Regions from separate parts of the Homo sapiens genome. Here region 2 is linked to region 1. A link means that fine-mapping ties the variant in region 1 to the expression of a gene that starts in the linked region. Tissue or cell type: prefrontal cortex. Region 1 holds a variant in brackets; the other region holds the start of a gene. All regions are shown on one strand. Distances are from middle to middle.

Evidence for each region. PIP is the estimated chance that this variant, and not a neighbour inherited with it, causes the effect.
Region 2: it holds the start of OPA1, and the variant in region 1 is fine-mapped to the expression of OPA1 in prefrontal cortex (ROSMAP, PIP 0.95).

What each region holds. Positions count from the first base shown.
Region 1 is chr3:193,709,326-193,712,007 of GRCh38, forward strand. No RefSeq gene overlaps it. Among named protein-coding and RNA genes, the nearest start is that of OPA1-AS1, 83 kb to the left of the region's middle. RefSeq lists enhancers at 885-1,820, 1,821-2,682. The variant G/A (reference allele first, on the strand shown) is at 1,380.
Region 2 is chr3:193,591,867-193,594,548 of GRCh38, forward strand. It overlaps OPA1 (OPA1 mitochondrial dynamin like GTPase), which reads left to right and starts at 1,342. Exons shown (of 31, transcript NM_130837.3): 1 at 1,342-1,543. The coding sequence starts at 1,512. It also overlaps a transcript of ATP13A4 not described here. RefSeq lists enhancers at 1,004-1,655, 1,051-1,120, 1,171-1,220, 1,656-2,307, 1,821-1,900 and a silencer at 1,441-1,590.

The DNA.
Region 1 (2,682 bases):
CCTGTAATCCCAGCACTTTGGGAGGCCAAGGTCCAACATGGTGAAACCCCATTTCTACTACAAATACAAAAATTAGCCGGGCGTGGTGGCGGGTGCCTGTATTCCCAGCTACTCAGGAGGCTGAGGCAGGAGAATCGCTTGAACCAGGGAGACGGAGGTTGCAGTGAGCTGAGATGGCACAACTGCACTCCAGCCTGGGTGACGGAGTAAGACTCCATCTCAAAAACAAAAAAAAAGAAAAAGAAATATTGATGGAATCTTGCCCCTCTCCTGCACTGTCTACTCACCTATGCTGACACAAGTACAATTTATTCTCCAGAGGTGTTTCCTCCACTCTTTCTGCTAAGCAAAGGGTTAGCAGACATTTCAGTGGCCTCTGCTTCCAGTCAGGGCCCAGCTCTGCTCTGTGGAGCCACCGCTGCTCCAACTGCTCTGCTGGTGCTGGTGCTACGGGCTTGGGCCTGGAAGAGTGAACAGTCCAGTTCACAGCCCAAGTCCTGAGCATTCATGTCTGTTCAGGAGAGGCCCTTAAGGGTGTTGCCTGTGTGGCACCAACTCAATAAGCTGCACTTACAGATTCTGAAGAAAACGTAGGCTGTCATGTGGGTCTGTATTTTTCTTAAGAAGATGCAGAGGATTCAGGTCCAACTCATTTAGCATTGCTAAGTGAAACTCTTACCTTTGGCGCAGGGATGTTAATGATGACATTGTTAATGCGGCACACCAGTGTTTTTGTTCCAGGACCCACGGTTGATAGAGAACCCAGCATCAGGAAGAACTGCGCCACCCCTGAGCAAATGCTTTGTGCCTGCCTTCTATTGACCATTTTTCTCCTTTTACTTTGGCTGCTAGGAAGCCCAAAACTAAATTATCAGCCTATCCTTGCTCTCATATGGAGCCTTACATTATATGTCTTATAACCCCCTAGAAAGATGGACCCTTTCATCAGAAAAGCAGATTCAGTCCTTAATTTCATGGTATTAAATTTTTCCTTGACTTGATTTCACCTTGCTCCCTTTTTTTCCTCATGTAACTTTGATTTCTTCATCTGCATTATTGTGGGAATTTCCAAAAGTGACCTTAGATCCTTTTGTCCAATGAAGTAAAGTGTGAACTTAAACATGCAACTACCAGTGAGTCGGTCAGCAAGTTCCCTCGTGTGTACTGAAGGGAGTTCAGCAAGTTCCCTCGTGTGAAACTGCCCCTTTCTAAGGGGCAGGTTGCATGTCTGTAACTTCTTTCTTGTTATTTCTTTTAACTCTTCTATGACATAGGGACATGGATTAGTGAGGGAAAGCAGCATAGCAGTGCCTTATGAAAATCCAGTTCTTCTTCTAGTCTATGCGAATAGCCGAAAAGCCAGCAGGGACCCAGAGGCC[G/A]CGGAGCCGGACCGCAGAGTGGAGGCCAGGCCGGTGGGCAGGAGGAGGTGGGAACACCGAAGGCCGCCAGGACTGAATCCGCTTCTCTAATGAAAGGGCCCTTTTTTCCAGGGGATTATAAGAATATTCATGACCCTTGAGATCAGCAGGTGAGGCTCAGCCCTCCCTACTCATCCTTTGGGCAAATAGTTCAGAAAGCCGAGGTTGCCAGGATGAGAAAGAAACAGTGGGAGTTGGGAGCTCTTCCCGCTTCCCTTGGCCCCCAACCCCCTTTCATTTTCAGAGGAGGGCAGGGTGGGGGCACTTGTCCTGAGGTGAATCAAGGACTGTGTCTTTCATTTCCAAAGAGCAGGCAGCGAGGCTGAGGCAGAAGTCCCGTGACATGACTTGAGACACAAAATGGTATCTTAGCATCGAAGACTCCCTTTGACAAGAAGAAGAAAAGCCCTTTTCTTCCCAGCCCGGATTAGGCGAGGAGGGAATTCTCCGGAACATGTGTGCATTGTTTCGTGGAGGGCAGCCAGGCTGGCCTGGGGCTTGCCTCCCAAAGTCAGCCCAAGGAAGCTTGTCCTCGTGTAATTAAAAGGGAAGGGAAACAGCAGGGGGTCTTGTTCCGCTGCTGCCCACCAAAGTGGGGTCCCCGGGGGATGGTGCGGCCCAGGAAATTGGCTAAATTAATGGTTATGGGAGGCCTCCCTGAATGTGTGGGCCCTGGAGGCAGAAAGAGGGCAGGGCAGGGAGTCTCATCAGAGCCTTTCTGATAAAAATGGGAGAAAGAGAAATGCTCTCAGGGCAGGGGTGTCTAAGCTCTTGCCCCCTGACTGGGCATCCAGGCTGCCCTCGGGACACAGCACCTGAGGTGAGGGGTCAGCCCCTTGTGGAAAGCAGAGCCTCCGGGCAGTGTGTCCAGGCCCTCCCTGTCCAGCTGATGCAGGCTGGCCCCTCACATTCTCCAGCTGACAGCCAGGCCGGGAGCGAGGAGGTCACAGGTCATGGCCGGGCACTGGGGCCCTGGAGCTCACAAAGCGGGAGCTGCTTCCCTGGGCAACATGAGTTTCTGGAAAGCAGTCTCTTGTATTTGTCAATGGTACAGTGTCTCACTCAGAAATTATCGGGAAAAGTGAAACCCTGAACTGGAAGCCAACGTCTTAGGCATTTATAAGGTTTAACCCATTTATGAAGAAGAAATGTCCTTTCCTTATGAAAAAGAAAGCTTTTCTTCATGAAGAAATGCTTTATAATCGCCATTTCCTGAAAGCTTCCATTCAAAAAGGTGAACTCCATGCTTCATTTTTGCCAACTC
Region 2 (2,682 bases), 120 kb before region 1:
CAAAGACACTTTTTGTACAACCCTACAATCCCAGGAAGATCTACAGTTTGCACAGGTTGGTACAGCAAATTGCTCTCTGGACCTGCCATTGAAACAGTCACCACAATAAATAAAGAAAATTCTAAGAGTCCTGCATTTGGGAAGTTTACTATCAATGGCTAGGTCTACTCTTGGTGGTATTGTGAGTGCATGGGTCCAGACTTATGATTCTGACAATTAAGGGAAAAGGAATTGTCTTTATGCTCTGTGTATTTGTGTATGTGTGTGGCATGGGTGGGGGGCGGGTAGTGGGGAGGAGGTGAAAGGTCCCTGAAGTAAAGAGGATGCACAGGACCCTTTTATTTTAGTCCCTAAAAATTGGCTTCATAACCGTTCACAGGCCACATCCCTTTTACGGGCCCTGGTTTCCTTACAAAACATAAAAGGTTTGTGTTGGAAGGGGAAAGGAGTATTTAAAGTGATGGAGGAGAGGAGCTCAAGATGGCTGAGATCTGGGCCTGTCCAACATTGAGAAATTTGGGAGGGGAGCCATCAAAGAAGCCTGGGAGCAGCAGTTCCAGGGAAAAAGGAGAATGTGATGGCCAGAGAGCCAAAAGAAAAAGTAGTTGAAGGAGTGCTCAGCACTAGGCATCTGAACTGAATGCTGTGGCAGGCTCACTGGCCACAAACAATAGGGAGCTGGTGGAGGCCTTGACGAGGACCATTTCAACAAACTGGTGGGCTTAAAATCCGGAAGAAACAGTTGAACAAATCATTTTGACGCCTTTTATAAACCACACAAGCTTATTCCAAACCCGTTACTGGCCTAACTGATTTAAGTCCCTTTCCCATCTGATCCTCAGAGATTCTAAGGGACTTAGCCTATCCATGACTCTTCGTCCTGCTTCTCACCTCCCATGATTGCCCTAACGATGTGAAAGTGCTTTCAAACAAAGATGCCCAAGAAAGAAGGTAGGCAAATGTGCAAGCATTAGTTTGTAGTACGCTATTACTGTATTTCACCTTGCACTCTCTAGTTTCCTTCGTGCTCCCTCAATATCCAACTCTTAATAAATTCATGGCTCCCGGTGAGCATTCATCAATTCTCATTCCACGCCTTTAGCCCTTCCCGTTCCCGCCCAACTCTCGCTCCCTCCCCTGGCCAAATCTCTAACCTGCAAGGCTAATTCCGAATTCCAAATCGGAAGCAAGAGGGCGGGGCCCCGTGAGAGGCGATGGATTGCTCCAGTCCGTTCCCGACGCACTGTGCGCATGCGCTGGTCCTCCGCGGACCGTTCGTGCTGCCCGCCTAGAAAGGGTGAAGTGGTTGTTTCCGTGACGGACTGAGTACGGGTGCCTGTCAGGCTCTTGCGGAAGTCCATGCGCCATTGGGAGGGCCTCGGCCGCGGCTCTGTGCCCTTGCTGCTGAGGGCCACTTCCTGGGTCATTCCTGGACCGGGAGCCGGGCTGGGGCTCACACGGGGGCTCCCGCGTGGCCGTCTCGGCGCCTGCGTGACCTCCCCGCCGGCGGGATGTGGCGACTACGTCGGGCCGCTGTGGCCTGGTAAGTGCAGGCTCTAATCTGGCCCCGTTAATTCTGGGGCCTCTTGAGAGTGGGGCTGTCTTATCTCTATCTCCAAAAATGTGCAGGTGACTCTCAGGCCAGGCCGACGGCAGTTGGAGAATTCCCAGATGTTCTTGAGGACCCAGAATGACAGGAGCCCTGGCTGGGCTTACGTTCGGAGCCGGCTTCAATACTGGCCCTTTTCTCTGGCCCTACCCAACCCGAAAATTCTGGACGCCTCTCAATCTTGGCCCGTCTCTATTGTCCTTTTGTCTCTGCCCTTTACACCCTTGTGTCTTCAGTGTTCTGTCTGTCTCTGGTTGCCTCTTTTGCCTTTTTTCTGTCCTCTCCCTGCCAGGTTTGGCTCTGTCCATGAGTCACCTCTCTCCACATTTCTCCTAACTCTCGGTGTCTTCTTTTTCTTCCATTTCCACGCCATGTGTACATTGCATCTTCAGGTACCTGGGCTCTTCTATCGGGGAAAGGGGCGTCCGTCTCTTTCCCTAGCCCGCTGATAGAAGTCAGAACTAGAGCAATGACGCACACGGTGTCAGAGACGGTGATTCGAGATGCCCTTTCAATAGCAGCTTTTTTCTGTGTTTCGGGAGGGAGACTTACTTTTTGATGCAAGGTCGTGAACGTGGCACCACCTTTCTAATCTCAATCATTGTTGCCCTGGGGTGGTTTAATTCTAAATAGAAAATCATAGAAATCTTTTCATTTCTGTGCGTTACTATATGCATTGTAATGAGATTAAATTGGATTTTATAGGAAATTTTGTTCTAGTATCATTAGATACCTTCAAGCTTAGCTCATTGTTGCAGGCATTTGATAGGAAGTAAGATGCATCAAGCAAAATTGGAAAAACGTGGTTTTCCTGAATTAACTTCTAAGCAGTTGTTTTGAATTTTTTCCAGACCTTTTTAAGTGGTATAGATAATTTATCGTGTTTATAAGGAATGGAATGCATTCGTTAGTTTGTTTTTGTTTTGTTTTGAGACGGAGTCTTGCTCTGTCGTCCAGGCTGGAGTGCAGTAGCGCTATCTCGGCTCACTGCAACCTCCGCCTCCCAGGTTCAAGCAATTCTCCTGTCTCCGCCTCCGGAGTAGCTGGAATTACAGGCACGCGCCAGCACGCCT